Homo sapiens: one gene and its partners. The protein of the gene in region 3 purifies or fractionates together with the protein of the main gene of each other region. This does not show direct contact. Each region holds a gene or a part of one and is shown on either strand. Other genes may lie near its edges.

Region 1 (3,525 bases), on a different chromosome or scaffold from region 3:
ACTAAACATAATGACCTCCAGTTCCATCCATGTTGCTGCAAATGACAGAATTTCATTCTTTGTTATGGCTGAATAATATTCCATTGTGTACATACACCACATTTGCTTTACCCATTGATAGGCACTTAGGTTGATTCCATATCTTGGCTATTGTGACTAGTTCTGCAATAAACATGAGGGTGCAGATATCCCTCCAATATACTAATTTCCTTTCTTTTGGATATATACTCAGTAGTAGGCTTGCTGGGTCATATGGTAGTTTTGTTTTGAGTTTTTGATGGAACCTCCATACTGTTTTTTTTACAATGGTTGTACTAATTTACATTCTCCACAATGTGCTTTGAAAACAAAATACAGAAATGAATCCCAGGGCTTGGAAGGCTGTCAGCCAAGTTAATCACTTGGGACCACTATTTGGAAGGAATTTACTTAACTGCATCTTTCCCAGTGTTTGGCCAGTTCAACTTCTGGAAAGACCCCACTAGGCAAAGTTGGAAATTCCCTTTTTCATTGTCTCAAATCTGGGACAGTTTGGTTTGATAACAGGAAACTTTGTGAAATGAAAAACTTCAAAAAGAAGAAGTTGGGCACTGACCTTAGACATCCATGACTTGAAGTGAAACTTCTCTGTAAAAAGAAAAAAAAAATTAGGTCTGGGCGCATCACAGTAATGTTGAGTCTATAGCAAAGTAGGGCACTTTAGAACTGATTTGCATTTTCGAAAACTGGACTAAATTTAAAACACCAAAAATGGTGTTATATAATGCAGAATGCAAAAAGAAACTCCGACTCTTCCTGGTTTTGTACCCCAAATTAATGTGAAAAAGTATATACTATTAGTCAATGGTGTTGAAAGTCAGGATGGTGGTTATGCCTACTGGGTCGGGGTGCAGAAAGCACTTCCGGGATGCTGCTCATATCCTGTTTCTTCAACTGGGCGCTGGTTAACTGAGTGTGTTTAGATTGAGAAAATTCGTGGAAATGCATACTCAATGATTTGTGCCCCTTTCTGTATGAAGTTATATTTCGGTAAGAAGTTAATTTAAAAAGCTATCTACTCCAGCTGGGCGCGGTGGCTCATGCCTGTAATCCCAGCACTTTGGGAGGCCGAGGTGGGCCGATTGCCTGAGGTCAGGGGTTCAAGACCAGCTTGGCCAACATGGCGAAACCCTGTCTCCACAAAAATATAAAAATCAGCTGGGTATGGTGGTGTGTGCCTGTAATCCCAGCTACTCGGGAGGCTGAGGAGAATCGCTTGAACCCGGGAGGCGGAGGTTGCAGTGAGCCGAGATCGTGCCACTGCACTCCAGCCTGGGCGACAGAGAGAGACTCCGTCTCAAAAACAACAACAACAAAAAACAAACCTATCTATTCCAAGGGCAAGCACTGTTTTTCCTTATGGGGACAGGTAGTAAATATTTCAGGCTTTGCCATCTATATGGTTTCTGCCACAACTACTCAACTCTGCCCCTGCGGCTCAGAGACAGCCACAGAGACTGTGAACATTAATGGGTAGGACTGCGTTCCCGCAAGACTTCACAAAAACGAAACCTCACATGTACCCCCAAATATGTACAGATATTATCAAAAACATAATAAAACAAACAAGACAAAATATTTTACAAAAGCAGGCCAGCCATTTGTTTTTGGATTCCTGCCGTATTTCCCCATGTATGTTCTTATCTAAACATTTCATTTTAAATTTGAATACCTCCAAAGACATATTCCAACTTATAAATATTGAGATTTAAAAATAACACCTGGCAGTGTGGCCCAAGCCTATAATCTCAGTACTTTGGGAGGCTGACACAGGCGAATCCCTTGAGCCTAGGAGTTTGGGACCAGTCTGGGCAACAAAGTGAGACCTCGTCTCTACAAAAAAATAAAAAAAATTAGACGGGAGAATCACTTGAGCCTGGGAGGTTGAGGCTGCAATGAGCTATGATAGCGCCACTGCATTCCTGCCTGGGTGACAGGAGTGAGACCTTGTCTCAAAAAAAAAAAAAAAATCTCTAAAAATAAGATTGTTATATCATTCTTTTAAAGCTAGCCAGTGGAATCTAAATACCATGATGATTTGATATCCACCATCAGTAACATGAACAAACTTTTCTATAAGAGTCAGGTATTTAGGCGGGGTGTGGTGGCTCACGCCTGTAATCCCAGCACTTTGGGAGGCCAAGGTGGGCAGATCACCTGAGGTCAGGAGCTCATGACCAACTTGGCCAACATGGCAAAACCCCAGCTCCACTAAAAATACAAAAATTAGCTGGGCATGGTGGCAGGCGCCTGTAATCCCAGCTACTCAGGAGGCTGAGGCAGGAGGATCGCTTGAACCTGAGAGGCGGAGGCTGCTGTGAGCCGAGATTGTGCCACTGCACCCCAGCCTGGGTGACAAGAGCGAAACTCCATCTCAAATAAAGAAAACAAAACAAAAAAGAGTCAGATATTATACAGAGTTTCTTTTTCTTGTTGAACACCTATCTCCATCCCCACCTGGCAGAATTTTATCCTAAGGGAACATACATTTTTATGCTTGATCACCTTCACATTCTTTTCTGCAACAACAACAAAAAGTTTAAATTTAAATTATTTATTTTGGCTGGGCGCCGTGGCTCATGCCTGTAATCCCAGCACTTTGGGAGGCTGAGGCAGGTGGATCATGAGGTCAGGAGTTTGAGACCAGCCTGGCCAACATGGTGAAACCTCATCTCTACTAAAAATACAAAAATAAGCCAGACGTGGTGGCATGCACCTGTAGTCCCAGCTACTTGGGAGGCTGAGGCAGAAGAATTGCTTGAACCTGGGAGGCAGAGGTTGCAGTAGCCAAGATCGTGCCACTGCACTCCAGCCTGGGCGACAAAGCGAGACTCTGTCTAAAAAAAAAAAAAAAAAAAAAAAAAAAATTAAATGTTTTTACTACCTGTGACCCATACATCTGTGAATATTATAAAAATTTATTCTGGAGCTGGGCGCGGTGGCTCATGCCTGTAATCCCAGCACTTTGAGAGGCTGAGACGGGCGGATCACGAGTTCAGAAGATCGAGACCATCCTGGCTAACACGGTGAAACCCCAACTCTACTAAAAATACAAAAAACAAATTAGCCGGGCGTGGTGGCGGGCGCCTGCAGTCCCAGCTACTCAGGAGGCTGAGGCAGGAGAATGGCGTGAACCCGGGAGGCGGGGCTTGCAGTGAGCCGAGATCACGCCACTGCACTCCAGCCTGGGCGACAGAATGAGACTCCGTCTCAAAAAAAAAAAAAAAAATTTATTCTGGATTGAGTAATCATAATTATTATTAGTGTCCCAACTGATTAAAACATTTCAAATGTATTATACATTATGAAAAGTAATTGTTAAACATCAAAAGTAAAATTGTATCAGAAATGCATCTCTTAATGTGATAAACAGTACTCTACTGCCCATCCCCCGCAATGGATTTATATTTTCATGAGTGAATATTGTTTGGTTGAGAAAAGGTTCAGCATTAATTCTGGTCTTATTTTTGTTTCTTATAGGTCAAA
Region 2 (3,500 bases), on a different chromosome or scaffold from region 3:
CAACAAAACCCATGAAGTATCCAAAGTAAGTTATACAAATAATAGTTGAAGAATAAAAGAGAGTAAATATTTTTCTTTTTAAAACATAAACTGATATTAGATTAATGCTAAGCCTACAGAATTCCTCCCAGGCACTTGCTTACTGATAGATTTTGGGGGAAAAGGTAAGAGTTGGTGTTGGGTTTAAGTCTTGGGGACTTAGTGTCAGCGTGGACATACATAGTGCCTTGAAAGTGGCTGGGCTAGTGGCCTCTAGTAGCCAGAGCAGTGAAGGGGATGTAGCAGAGTGGGCAGTTTCCACTTGGACAGGTGTCAGATGTCCTCTTCTCTGTTCTCTTTCCCTCTTCCACCTTGTCCCTGTCATCATTCCCCATGCATCTCCATAAAGGTATTTACTAAGAACCTCTGCCACACCTAACGTCCTGTCAGGCACCAAGGACGGTACCAAGAGAGGTACAGATGATGCTAGGACTGAGCTTAGTAACCCATGGGTGGTAACTGAACTGATGCAACTCTTTTCATGCAGAACACTGTCTTGGAGGCATTCCAGAATGCATCTCTTATATCTAGAGTGAGCTGCAGACTTAAGAAAGGGAAATTCTGGCCGGGCGCGGTGGCTCACGCCTGTAATCCCAGCACTTTGGGAGGCCGAGGCGGGCGGATCACGAGGTCAGGAGATCGAGACCATCCCGGCTAAAACGGTGAAACCCTGTCTCTACTAAAAATACAAAAAATTAGCCGGGCGTAGTGGCGGGCGCCTGTAGTCCCAGCTACTTGGGAGGCTGAGGCAGGAGAATGGCATGAACCCGGGAGGCGGAGCTTGCAGTGAGCCGAGATCCCGCCACTGCACTCCAGCCTGGGCGACAGAGCGAGACTCCATCTCAAAAAAAAAAAAAAAAAAAAAAGAAAGGGAAATTCTGATTCCGAATGCTTCCAATTAAGTCATGGTACTGGGATGGAGGAGCCAAGTAGCAGAGCATCCCAAGAGCGTTGCCATCCCTTGAGATCTGCATAGTCTCACCTGCCCTTCCCACTGGGAACCAGGGAGGTGGAAGGGTTGGCAGAGTCTGGCCACTGAAACAAAAGGAGGGGTCCAGGTTACAACCTTTAGCTGAGACCTGGTCTTCTCATCTATGGTGTGTGGCCATAATATCGCCAACACCACAGTACTCTTGAGAGAATTAAATGTGCCTTAGCACAGCATTGCCCCACAGAAAACATATCCAAATGCAAATTCCTCTTTCCTTCCCATTGTCTAAAGAGGCAGAGCTCCAAGGTTCTCAGCAGAACTTTTGAACTTCTGGTTTATTGAATGACAGGTGTCCTGCAAATCTGACCCTCTTACCCTCAGGTTGAAGCCCTAGGGTGGCTGCTCTTCCACTGCAGAAGATGTTCCCAGTGGGAGGGGCGGGTGAGGCTGTGCAGATCTCGAGGGATGGCAGCGCTCTTGGAATGCCCTGTCACTTAGCTCCCCCCTTCCATAAATGTGACTTTATTGAAAGCATTCAGAACCAGAATTTTCCTTTCTCAAGCCTGCAGCTCACTCTAGATATCAGAGATGCATTCTGCAATGCCTCCAAGCCATGTTCCGTGTGAAAGGAGTCACATCAGTTCAGTTCAGTTACCACCCACGGGTTCCCCCATGTTGTCTCAACATGGGGACATCCCCAAAGGGACTGACGTGTTTCAGCCTGCACTCTACAGATTTTTAGAGTTCACAGAGATGTCTTGAGAGATCTCCCTAGGGAACTGGGGGGTGTAGAACATGAAGAGAAGGTAAGAAATGGGAGGGATGCCAGGTCTTCCACCCCACTTCATCCAGAAGTCTGGCTTTGTGAGACATGGACTCCAGAATATGACATTTCCCGTAGGACTCAAATTACAGTGGCTTGAGACTCTGCAGTTGATTTGCTGGAACTCACTGTCCTGAGTGCACTCCACCCCTATCTCCAAGCCATGTCTGACAATTTCTCCATGGGGCTACAGCTCAGGTGCTACACTGGGGGCTTCACATTCCCCTCACTGAGGCCCTCTGCAGCCCCTGGTGCTGTGACCACCATCAGGCCACCACCAACCACACAGATGTTCCCTGGGCACTGCCACCATCTCTCTGGCTTCAGGCTTCATCTCCTTTTGCACCTTTACACAAGAGTGAAATAGAACCTTTGAGATTTTCTGTAGGCTAGTGCCAGACTTCCTGGAGGTTTGGGAATAACAGAACCAAAGCTCCTCACAGGGACCCAGGATAACTTACAGCGCACAGAAGCGGCGTCTTGTGAAGTCCAAGTGTAAGCTGCTCTCAGTGGCGTCTCGTGAAGTCCAAGTGTAGAGTGTAGGCTGCTCTCAGTGGTGTCTTGTGGAGTCCAGGTGTAAAGTGCAGGCTGCTCTCAGTGGCGTCTTGTGAAGTCCAAGTGTAGGCTGCTCTCAGCATCTCTTCCAGGGCACCTCCTTCCATTTTTCTAGTGCCTGGTCTGCCTCCCCCATCCCTCTGGGACTGCTTTCCGCATCTCCTTGACTTGAGGCCAGGCCTCCCCACCAGGAGGGCCATAGAAAGGAAGGTTCCTCTCACCCCAGGGATGTCTTGCCTACCCAGTCACTTCTGGCCTTGGAATGACAGACAGGGTATTGTCCACCTTCCCGAGAAGAAACTCCAAATCCTCTTGCAGGACAGGGGGCTTGCTCACCGTCCCCAGGGAATTACATTTCATTAGAACATGATAGGAACAAACATTCCTACCTTCTGAGCTCATTATTTCTGGGAGATAAGTGGTCAAGTTGCTTTGATCTACAGGTGGGAAGCCTAGTCCAGAGAGCTCAGTGGCCCGCTATGGGAGAGCAGAGGTGGACGGGCTATCCCTATGCATTCTTTCTGCAGTCCTCTCCAGACTGGAGGGCCTAGAAGACACTGAGCAGAAAAATCACCTTTTCCCTAAAAGAAGTAACCAAGTCAACAGACACACACCAACTTACATGTGTGTAGAACATGTCAGAATTTAGGCTTCGGATGACTTCCACCTGGCCTCTGTGCAGGAGGCAGACACCTGCTTTGGATTTGCATAATTTGAGGCCAGGTGCTGCTCTGATTTCCCCAGAGGAAAAGCTCTGTTTCCCAGGGTCCACCTTTAGGAGCAGAAAACTGCTGGTGGCTTTGAAATAGCCATTGTCCTGTTCAGAAGTGTCGAGGGTCCACTCCCAGCCTGGGTGCCCCCCACACATTTCCGTACATATTGGTATATGCACTCACCTGTCAGCACAGCTGCACTTAGTGCCTTCCCACGTTGGCACAAACTAAAGCCGATCTCCTCATTTACGCACTGGACCTACGGCCCCCTGCTACTCAGGAACATCACCCTAGAAATCCTCTCCTCACTTTCCTACATCAGCATATGTTTTTCTCTCTTCTGAATCATTTCCATCAGATACAAAGATGCCCTTATCTTTCCTATCATGAAACCTCGCAGGGGGCCAGGGAAAACTTACAGCTCATAGAAGTGGCTTCT
Region 3 (3,525 bases):
TTGAAAAACACAGAAAGAGTGGGTAAGTGTTCTCACCACAAAAAATGACTATATGAGGCAATGCATTTGTTAATTAGCTAGATACAGCCATTCACAATGTATACATTCTTCAAAACATCATGTTGTACATGATAAATACATACAGTTTTATCTGTCAATTTAAAAAGTAAAAAAGAAAGGATGAAATTAAGCATTATTTAATACATGGATTGACAATTGTACGTCTACTTAATACACATATATTGGGGGCACACGTGCAAGCATTTTCTACTGATAGGGATATAAGATCAAAGCAAGCTCAGAGACCTGTGGTTTTTGAGGGGCCTTCAGAGCTGATGCAGCCACCTCCACCTCAAAGGCTAAATGGCAGCATGCTGGTTGTTTGTGAGTACTGTACCTTCACAATGTGGGAATCCGATCTGTGACAAAATCTGTTTCAAGGTCAATTTGTTGCTCTTAAGCCCATGCAGTTGAAGCCATTTCTCAGATGAAATGAGACTCTGCTCAGCCAAGTCTGTTTTGGTGTTAATCCATCCCTCTTGCCTCTGCAGCTGCTGCTCAGAGATGGTAGAAGATGGGCCTGATTTCTCCATCTCTGAATCAAGATCTAAGTCACAGCAAACTCCTGTAAGGGCAATCATAAACTCAGACTTCCTAAAAACTTGGAAATCATCTAACGTCAACAGGGGACTGGCTTAACATAAATTATAGTACACCCATGAAGTGGAATGCTATTTATCAATTAAAATTATACATGTATATTTGGTGGAAAAGAGGACAGTCACATGAATTGCTAAGAGGTATCCATAAAGTTCAATATTCAACTATATATATATATATATATATATATATATATATATATATATATACAAAAACATCTAGAAAGATATTCCGTAACAGGTTTAGAGTAGTTTTCTCTGTGTGGTGGTAGTATGTGTGGTTTTTGCCTTTTCTATATTGTTTAAATTTTTGCATTATTTGAATATTTCTAAAATGGGGTTTACTTTGTTGTTGTTGTTGTTGTTTTTTGTTCATTTGTTTTTGAGAAGGAGTCTCGCTCTGTTGCCCAGGCTGGAGTGCAGTGGCACAATCTAGGCTCACTGCAACCTCCACCTCCCAGGTTCAAGCAATTCTGCTGCCTCAGCCTCCTGAGTAGCTGGGATTACAGGCGCGTGCCACCATGCCCAGCTAATTTTTGTATTGTTAGTGGAAATGGGGTTTCACCATGTTGGTCAGGCTGGTCTCGAACTGCTGACCTCGTGATCCGCCCGCCTTGGCCTCCCAAAGTGTTGGGATTACAGGCGTGAGCCACTGCGCCCAGCTGGAATTTACTTTTATAATCAGAAAACTGCAAAGCTCTTCCATTTTGGAAAAAAATAAACACTAGCCCCAGAACCTTCACTACACATCTGTATTCCAATAACAATCACACCTGACATTTTGTGCCCAATGAGGATGAGAAGGATAAAACTCTGACAGGTTTTTACCTGTCGAACAGGTGTAGTGGCTAATTGGGAGCTGGTGGCGGTTGGGAACCAGACCACAGCTCAGCCCAGCTGGAATACATGTATCCACTTTCTGAATGTTTTATTGTCTGGGGCTTTGCTCTACAATTGGACTTAAGCATTCTGGCCCATGTAGCCATCTGTTCTGGGATCAACTGGACCCAAGGCCATATGCAACATATTAAACTTAGCTAGACCTGCCTAAATATAGCTAGTGTATGCAAGAGGAAAGGATGGGGCCAAACTATAATGCAATCTTAACCCGCTCACCACAAATGGGCAGGGCCTGGTGACCTGGAGGAAGTGTAGAAAGTTCTGCTTACTTCTGTATCCAGAATTCACAATGCATGTAAACTGATACCCTGAATTGTAAAACTTTTTAACAATGAAAATAGGTTCTTTCCCTATTTCTAAAACTTTAACTGTATTTCCTAAAAGTTTCACTGTCATGACATGGAAATTCAGTCAAACACAAAAATCAGTTGGACCAAGTCAGGGAGGTTTTATAAAAAGGAGTTAGAAGTATTATCATTAGCAAGCACTTATTTAACATCATGTTATGTGCAATTTACATTTAATCCTTATAACCTCATGAGGTAGGTACTACTCTTATTTTCATTTTACAAATGAGGAAACCAAGACAGAGAGGGGTTAATTAACTTGTCCACAATCTTACAACTGGTAAGGGGTGGAGTTAAGATTCTAAACCAGGCCATTCAGCTCCAGGATCTGTGTTCTGTGATCTTTAGTGTAATAGAAGCAATGCAACAACTTCCATTTGTTGGTCCTTTTATACGCACTAGCTCACAGCTTCTTCATACCATATCAGTTACTCATTATTAACACGCCACTTACATGTGAGGAATCGCAAGCTTCGAGGATTTAAAGAACTTGCTCACAGGTTCTGCCACAGCCAGTGAGAAAAGCAGGAGTCAAAGCCATTTCTTAACCACTCTGCTATCTTTACAATTAACCTCCTCCAGCCAGGTCTTATGGGACAAGGCAATCTGCATTCCAGTAGGACTGCATTCTAGTAGGGCCCTAGGTCCTCATCCGGAACGCTAATCTTTATTCTCAGAGCTCAGACTCAATAAGCTTCTTGGCTTATCACTCTCAAACTTTTAAAGATAATGAGGCTGGGTGCAGTGGCTCATGCCTGTAATCCCAGCACGTTGAGAAGATCGCTTGAGCCCAGGAGTTCGAGACTACCCTGACCAACATAGTGGAGGACTCATCTCTACTAATTTTTTTTTTTTAATTAGCCAGGCATGGTGGTGCATGCCTGTAGTCCCAGCTACTCGAGAGGCTGCAGCAGGAGGATTGCTTGAGCCCAGGAGTTCGAGGTTGCAGTGAGCTCTAATTGCACCACTGCACTCCAGCCTGGGCAACAGAGCAAGAACTTGTCTTTAGCGAGACTCAGTCTCAAAAAAAAAAAAAGATAATAATTTCCATTTCAAGGTTTATGTGAATTTGTATTGTCCACATATGTTGAGTTGCAAAGGTATACAAATTATTATTGGTGAAGATCTGGCTTTCTTTCTACAAAGGCTCAATTTGAGGAGAATATTGCAATATTACTTGGAGAGCATCACGTAGGAGTGGAAAAGTTTAGAATCAAAACTCAGTATAAGCCCATTCTGCCACTTTAAGGTGATTCCACCTCTCTAGGATAGTAATACCACCTGCACACCCTAACTCCCAGGGCTATTCAAGGAACAACTGTGCTGATGTATAAGTTATGCGTGGATAAGCACTTTATATGTTGGAAACAGCTATGTGCAAATAAATGATCTAAAAGTCATGGTTCTTTAGTCATTGTATTTTGTTTCATGAGACCCACTTTCATCCCAAGCACTTTTTATCCCCAAGTCTCCAATCATACTGAGCTAGAAAGTTTAGAATCACAGAACATGAAAACAAGGGCAGACTAATATGCCTCAACTTGTTTTTGAGGATCTATCCACAAAGACTGGAGCTGAAAGAAAGTCTTTTAAATTTGGTCAGTTGTTCCAAGAAACAA
Region 4 (3,525 bases), on a different chromosome or scaffold from region 3:
GGTTGTCAGTAGCAACCTTTTCTGTTGCACACACATGTGTGCACACACAAAAGAATCCTACCTTCCTAGTAGATAGCTGAGTGTTTCTTCCATCACCTTGCCAATTCCTAGTCTGTCCACTTCAGTCATTGAAAAGTATTTAATGCCTAGAGTTTTCAAAATGTAGCTATAAAAGAGAAATTAAGATAATTATAATTAATAAGGCTGACTGTGCCCGCCTGTCTCCTTTTAAGGGAAATATAAATATAGTAAAATATATAAAACATTTAGGTTCTATGAACCTAACTCAATATAGTTTTATTTGTATTTATTTTTAACAGCAAGTCAATTGAGATTTAATTGCCTGGATACATACATATGTATGTACATGTATATAAATATATGTGTGTGGGCATGTGTGTGTGTGTGTGTCTTGATGTTTAATTTTCTCTCATAGAGTTGGTCAGTAAAGCATATCTAGCACACAAAGGGACAAAAATGGAGGCAAATCACATCAAGGAATAAGCTTACTGTTCCCCAGGGTCCACGTCTCTCAAGCCAATATACACAATATCCTTGGCAGATATACAGGGAGTCACCCAGGAGAATCCTGGCACATCGGGAATCTAAAATTACAATGTTTTCACTTGGTTATGTATGATTCTCTTGAACAAATCCTACATTCAAAGGTAAAGACACATATTGGATTGCGTATATCTTATATTTAGAATATAAATACAGAAGAAATCATGTAAAAATAATACACAATTAAGAAGAGGATGTGTGCCTCCCCTTGATTGCTTTGACTTTGCCTTGAACCAGTTGGCATTTACCTACTTTGTGCCCCAGTCCTGCTGGGCCCTTCTTTCCCAGGGCTCCTCTATAAAGAAACGATTGTGCTCCCATTACTTTGGTAGCTTCCTTCTTTACTTCCCTTTCTCAGTAAGTCCTTAATCCAGAGGATGGCCTAGAGCAGCTGAGGGAAATTTGTGGCCTGTCCTTTGGTTATTCTTAATGTGATAATATGATGATATCTGCTTTGTCCTCCAGGACGTTTAGTTTTTCCCATGTACTAGGCAGATACTTTGCAAGTTTATAAACCCATCCCTTGGTCATTAGTTCAAAAGACATTATTTCTGAGCATTTAACATAAGGAGGTTTTAACCTCTTGTATCATCATAAGGACCAAATATTATAATTGTATCAATAAAAACTTTTTATTGATATACTATGGCATATCAACAAACTATGGCATATCAACAAAGTTATAAGCTGTAATATTAAATCTTAATCTGCCATTTTATTTTCCATCTTTTAGAAAAGGAGTTTCTAGGGAGCAGGGAGATAGTTCTTTCTCTTATGATTTAGATAGGTGCTTCTCCCAGTAAATACATTAGTTCATAAACCATTATATCTGAAATTTTAAAATTTCTTTTTTGAAAAGCCTCTATGATATAGAAGGACTACTCAGTAAGAATGCAGAACTGTGTGGCATGTAGTGGAAAGAGGAAGGAATGAGGAGACCTGGTGCTAGCCCTTGCTTCACTATAGGCTTGGCATATATCTTGGGCAAGTTGGTTAACCTCTGAACCTCCACTGACCTGTTTATAAATGATTACTCTCTGCCCCACCTACTAAAAGGATAGTTTAAGAATTAGCAGAGAAAATATATATTAAGTCAGTTTGCAAGGCAGAGATAGAGAGCCTCACTGCCTTTTATCAACCAACCCTTTGCTTATTGGCTGCAGAGAAAATGATTTGAGATTACACCAAGAATAAGATAACATGGAGTTTCTCATTTCCCTTCCACCTCCTGAATGTCTACTAAAAAGTATTCTATTGCACTAGAGTACCAACCAGTCTTTTACCTTTCCTTTTAGTTCCTTCAGGAGGAAAGATACAGGTTGTCCATGCAAGTTTCCACTTGTGGTTGTCAGTGGAGTGTTGATATCAGTGTGAGCATCCACCCAGATGACTCCAAGATCAGGGTGGACCCTGGCATGGCCAGAGATGCTTCCAATTGCCAAACTTTTGGGGAAAAAATTTTGTGTGAACATCAGGTTTGCAGTGTCACTACATACATCATATTATTCACTCAATGCTCCCACTTGGTTTTCCTTTGAGTCACAGTGTCTGATATTTCTGATAGGTTCTGAATTGGAGATGCCAATTAGTTAAAACAATAGAGAAAGCATAACTTACACTTAATGCTCACTAACTAGTTATATTTACATCGATTGCATTACTAAAAAAACTGTGATTTTTTTTCCCAAAATCCACCTTGTAAGAAAACCACGATTAGAGCGTAGCCAAAAAAATAAATGAGTATAAAAATACTAGCCACACAAGAAATTCCTTAGCATGAGACACTGTTCAATTCTCAGAGTTAAATTTGGATCATTTTCTGTACACTCATCTCTCTTGGTAAATACTTAATTCTCTCAAGTGAATTATGACAAAGTCTTTCAATTTTTCTTAAAATCCAGCTTTTATAATTTGAGAGCATCACTCAGAAGTTCTTACATGTTCTTACTCAAGTTCTTCAGCCAGCGTATGGCGTGTGTTCACTCATTCTATTCAATGCATCTAGTTACCCACTCAACCAGGAACAAAGTTCATCCCAAATACTTCAAGCTCCAGACATTTTGCTGGAATGGAAGACATAAATGATATCTTGCACAGAAGTTAAAAGTTAGGATTTATTAGGTTGGTGCAAAAGTATTGCGGTTTTGCCATTTAAAAACTGCAATTACTTTTGCACCAAGCTAGTACTATACAATGCCTGTATTCTCCCATTTGTGAATGTTTAAGTATCATTCAGAGAATCATGAGCTTTTAGATTCTCGAAGTGGAAGCAATAATGCCTTAACGTTCAGGTATGGATTATTCAGTGGACGTTTGTTTTCCCTTTAGGTTTCTTGTCTTTTGCCATGTGCCATTCCTAAAATTTCCACTTAACAAAGAAAGCGAGCCTCAGTTTCCCAATTGCAGTTTTGATACAGAGGCCTTGGTGACAGTTTGGCTTTAGAAGAGGAAGCCAAGGAGACCTGAAGTCATTGACTGCTCAAGAGCCATAGAAGTGTTTCTACTTTTAGATCTAATCAGGCCTTTCTGGTAAAATTATCCTAGGCCTTGGGAGTAAATATTTAAAGAGGCTCATGCACAAAAATGGTCTTTGCCACATTATTTGTAATGGTGAAAATTATAATGCAACCTGAATATGCCGCAATATGTACGTATATAGCGATGTAACCCCTTGATGAAAAATCATGCAGCAATTAAAAAACTGATGCTTATGATGCTTATGCACATCCCATGAAGCAACAAGGAAATTTGCACTGTAGAGTGAGAACACAACATAGACATCTGTCTCTCTCTCTCTCTCTCTCACACACACACATACACACACACACACACGTTAAACAAAGTCATCATGTACAAGGAAAAAAAAGATGCCATGAAAGAAATGTGCCAGATTTTCAATTCTGGTTGAAATGGTTGCTAGAGAAGTACAATTACCACATTTTTTTTCTTGTGTGTGTGTGT
Region 5 (3,525 bases), on a different chromosome or scaffold from region 3:
TGCTATCTCAATGTCAAGAGCCATTTTGACATTGAGCAAGTCCTGGTATTCCCGAAGGTGGCGTGCCATCTCACTCTTGGTGTTCCTCAGATCATTCTCCAGCTGCCCAATGCTATCCTGAAAAGTAACATATCCAAAATAGTTAGGCCAAACCAGCTGAAATTCCTCAAGATTTCCAGAAGGCAAGGATTCCCAGCCCTGACTACACATTAAAATCATCTAATGAACTTATAACTTGCTTATATCCAGGTCTGTCCCTGAGTCCAGATCCAGATTCACTGGTTCTGGGGTGGGGTCCCAGCATTTGCATTTTTTTCATAAAGGTCCCCAGGAGATTTGGACTCATGGTGAGGACTGGGAACTTTTACCCAGAGGGCAAGTGAACACCTGCCCTTTTCAGGATAGCCACACGGCATATAGTTCTGAACTGAACATGGAGATGATTTTTTTTTTTTTTACACTTACCATCCCTCCCTTGCTTGTTGTGTTGCTGCTAAATAACTCTGTTGTAGCATGTGCTTTCCAAAACCCAAAGCCTCAGGTTAGCAGCTTAGATTCAGAAAATTCCGAATGTGGAAAGCACAGAGAGCTTTCCAGGAAGACCTCTCTGCCTCCATTCATTTTGATGATTTCCTAGAAGCCTGCTAATCAGTCACTTTACTGAGAGCATTTTACATTATAGGTAAGGAGAAAGCAGAAATACTCCACAGAATTTTTAAAACACCGAGGCATGGAAGAGAAATCGCTTTATATTTATATATTTATAGTCCTTGAGCAGCCAGAAGGAATTCTTTTTTTTTTTTTTTTTTTTTTTTTGAGACAAGGTCTTGCTCTGTTGCCTAGGCTGGAGTACAGTGGTGTGATCACAGCTCACTGCAGCCTCAAAATTCCTGGGCTCAAGCGATCTTCCTGTCTCAGCCTCCCAAGCAGTTGGGACTAACAGGTGTACACTACCATGCCTGGCTAGTTAAAAAAGATTTTTGTTTTGTAAAGATGAGGTCTCATTATGTTGTCCAGGCTGGTCTTGAACTCCTGGCCTCAAGAGACACTCCTGCCTTTACCTCCTAAAGTGCTTAGATTACATGTATGAGCCACCATGCCCAGCCTGGTCTTTTCTTTTACTCCTTAACTATACCAAGTTCATTGCTGTCCCAGGCCCTTCAGGCTTGTTATTTCCTCTATCTAAAATGCCGGTCTTTACATGGCCGACTCCTTGTCATAGAAGATTCAGTTCACCCGGGTGTGGTGGCTCACACCTGTAATCCTAGCACTTTGGGAGGCTGAGGCAGGCAGATCACCTGAGATCAGGAGTTCAAGACTAGCCTGGCTAACATGGCAAAACTCCGTCTCTACTAAAAATACAAAAATTAGCTGGGTGCAGTGGCATGCACCTGTAATCCCAGCTACTTGGGAGGCTGAGGCAGGAGAATCGCTTGAACCCAGGAGGGGGAGGTTGCAGTGAGACGAGATCGCGCCACTGCATTCCAGCTGGGCAACAAGAGCGAAACTCCATCTCAAAAAAAAAAAAAAAAAGATTCAGTTCAAATGTCCTCTCCTGCCAGGCATGATGGCTCATGCCTGTAATCCCAGCACTTTGGGAGGCTGAGGTAGGAGGATCACCTGGAGTCGGGAGTTCGAGACCAGCCAGACCAACAAGGAGAAACCCCGTCTCTACTAAAAGTACAAAAATTAGCTGTGTGCAGTGGCAAGCGCCTGTAATCCCACCTACTTGGGAGGCTGAGGCAGGAGAATCGCTTGAATCTGGAAGGCAGAGGTTGCAGTGAGCTGAGATCGTACCACCGCACTCCAGCTTGGGCAACAAGAGCAAAACTCTGTCTCAAAAAAGATTCAGTTCAAATGTCCTCTCCTGCCAGGCACGATGGCTCATGCCTGTAATCCCAGCACTTTGGGAGGCTGAGGCGGGAGGATCACCTGGGGTTGGGAGTTCGAGACCAGCCAGACCAATATGGAGAAACTCTGTCTCTACTAAAAATACAAAAATTAGCCGGGCGTGGTGGTGCATGCCTATAATCCCAGCTACTAGGGAGGCTGAAGCAGGAGAATTGTTTGAATCTGGGAGGCGGAGGTTGCAGTGAGCCGAGATCGTGCCATTGCACTCCAGCCTGGACAACAAGAATGAAACTCCATCTCAAAAAATAAAATAAAATAAAATAAAATAAAATATAATGTCCTCTCCTCAGACAGGTCTTCATTTGCATCCAATTTAAGTATCCATCCTCGACCAACCCAGCACTTTATTTTACCTTAAGCCAGAGCAGCTACTGGCCCATGCAGGAACCTTGTGCAAATTAGAAAAAAAGCACTCAGTTGAATGCAGCCACCCTGCTCTCAGCTCTTACCATTATATGAAATTATCTTCTTCTTTTTTTTTTTTTCCGAGATGGAGTCTTGCTCTGTTACCCAGGCTGGAGTGCAGTGGCGCAATCTCAGCTCACTGCAACCTCCACCACCTGGGTTCAAGTAATTCTCCTGCCTCAGCCTCCTGAGTAGCTGGGATTACAGGTGTGCACCACCACACCTGGCTAATTTTTGTATTTTTAGTAGAGATGGGGTTTCACCATGTTGGCCAGGCTGGTCTTGAACTCCTAACCTCGTGATCCGCCCGCCTCAGCCTCCCAAAGTGCTGGGATAACAGGCATGAGTCACAGTGTCCGGCCCCGGCAATTTACTGGTTTATACTAGTTTATTTTCTGTTGCTTTCCTCTATAACAGAGTTTTACAACTTTGGCAGTGTTGATGTTTTAGGCTGGCTAATTATTTGTTATTGTGAAATGCGGGATATTTAGTAACATCCCTGGCTAGATGCCAGAAGCACATACTTCCCTCTCCCAGTTGCGATAACAAGAAAACATCTCTAGGGCATCCCAGCACTTTGGGTAGCTGAGGCAGGCGAATCACTTGAGGCTGAGCTGAGAGAATTGCTCGAGCCCGGTAGGCGGAGGTTGAAGTGAGCTATGATGGCGCCACTGTGCTCCAGCCTGGGCGACACAGCAAGACCCCGTCTTAAAAAAAAAAAAAAAGACACAATGATTGGGGGTTATTTTTAAGAAACAGTCATGCAGGGCCGGGCATGGTGGCTCATGCCTGTAATCCCAGCACTTTGGGAGGCTGAGGCGGGTGGATCACCTGAGGTCAGGAGTTCAGGTCAATCAAGAGACTGAGACTATGCTGGCCAACATGGTGAAACTATGGTCTCTACTAAAAATACAAAAATTAGCTGGGCGTGGTGGCGTGTGCCTGTAATCCCAGCTACTCTGGAGGCTGAGGTAGGAGAATCACTTGAACCTGGGAGGCAGAGGTTGCAGTGAGCTGAGATCGTGCCATTGCACTCCAGCCTGGGCAACAAGAGCAAAACTCCATCTCAAAAAAAAAAAAAAAAAAAGAAACAGTGATGCAGATAAACATATCAGAAACCTCAAGAAAGTAAGTGTTGACAGGCCCTTGAAACTCCCCTTGTGTGAGAATGATAAAGCAATGGTGAAAGGTAGGGCTGAGACATCAGGG

What was found.
Region 1: the proteins of VWA3B (region 3) and CTSH purify together in Homo sapiens (affinity purification with mass spectrometry; one large-scale study listed by BioGRID and IntAct). This does not show direct contact.
Region 2: the proteins of VWA3B (region 3) and SERPINA12 purify together in Homo sapiens (affinity purification with mass spectrometry; one large-scale study listed by BioGRID and IntAct). This does not show direct contact.
Region 4: the proteins of VWA3B (region 3) and ARG1 purify together in Homo sapiens (affinity purification with mass spectrometry; one large-scale study listed by BioGRID and IntAct). This does not show direct contact.
Region 5: the proteins of VWA3B (region 3) and INA purify together in Homo sapiens (affinity purification with mass spectrometry; one large-scale study listed by BioGRID and IntAct). This does not show direct contact.

What each region holds. Positions count from the first base shown.
Region 1 is NC_000015.10:78,938,545-78,942,069, forward strand, and holds part of CTSH (pro-cathepsin H isoform a preproprotein), read right to left. Parts: intron 628-3,525; coding exon 596-627; intron 1-595. UniProt on the Homo sapiens protein: Important for the overall degradation of proteins in lysosomes.
Region 2 is NC_000014.9:94,492,470-94,495,969, reverse strand, and holds part of SERPINA12 (serpin A12 precursor), read left to right. Parts: intron 1-3,500. UniProt on the Homo sapiens protein: Adipokine that modulates insulin action by specifically inhibiting its target protease KLK7 in white adipose tissues.
Region 3 is NC_000002.12:98,090,161-98,093,685, reverse strand, and holds part of VWA3B (von Willebrand factor A domain-containing protein 3B), read right to left. Parts: intron 626-3,525; 5' UTR 594-625; coding exon 398-593; intron 1-397.
Region 4 is NC_000006.12:131,579,701-131,583,225, reverse strand, and holds part of ARG1 (arginase-1), read right to left. Parts: intron 2,008-3,525; coding exon 1,848-2,007; intron 606-1,847; coding exon 511-605; intron 167-510; coding exon 62-166; intron 1-61. UniProt on the Homo sapiens protein: Key element of the urea cycle converting L-arginine to urea and L-ornithine, which is further metabolized into metabolites proline and polyamides that drive collagen synthesis and bioenergetic pathways critical for cell proliferation, respectively; the urea cycle takes place primarily in the liver and, to a lesser extent, in the kidneys.
Region 5 is NC_000010.11:103,283,627-103,287,151, reverse strand, and holds part of INA (alpha-internexin), read right to left. Parts: intron 118-3,525; coding exon 1-117. UniProt on the Homo sapiens protein: Class-IV neuronal intermediate filament that is able to self-assemble. It is involved in the morphogenesis of neurons.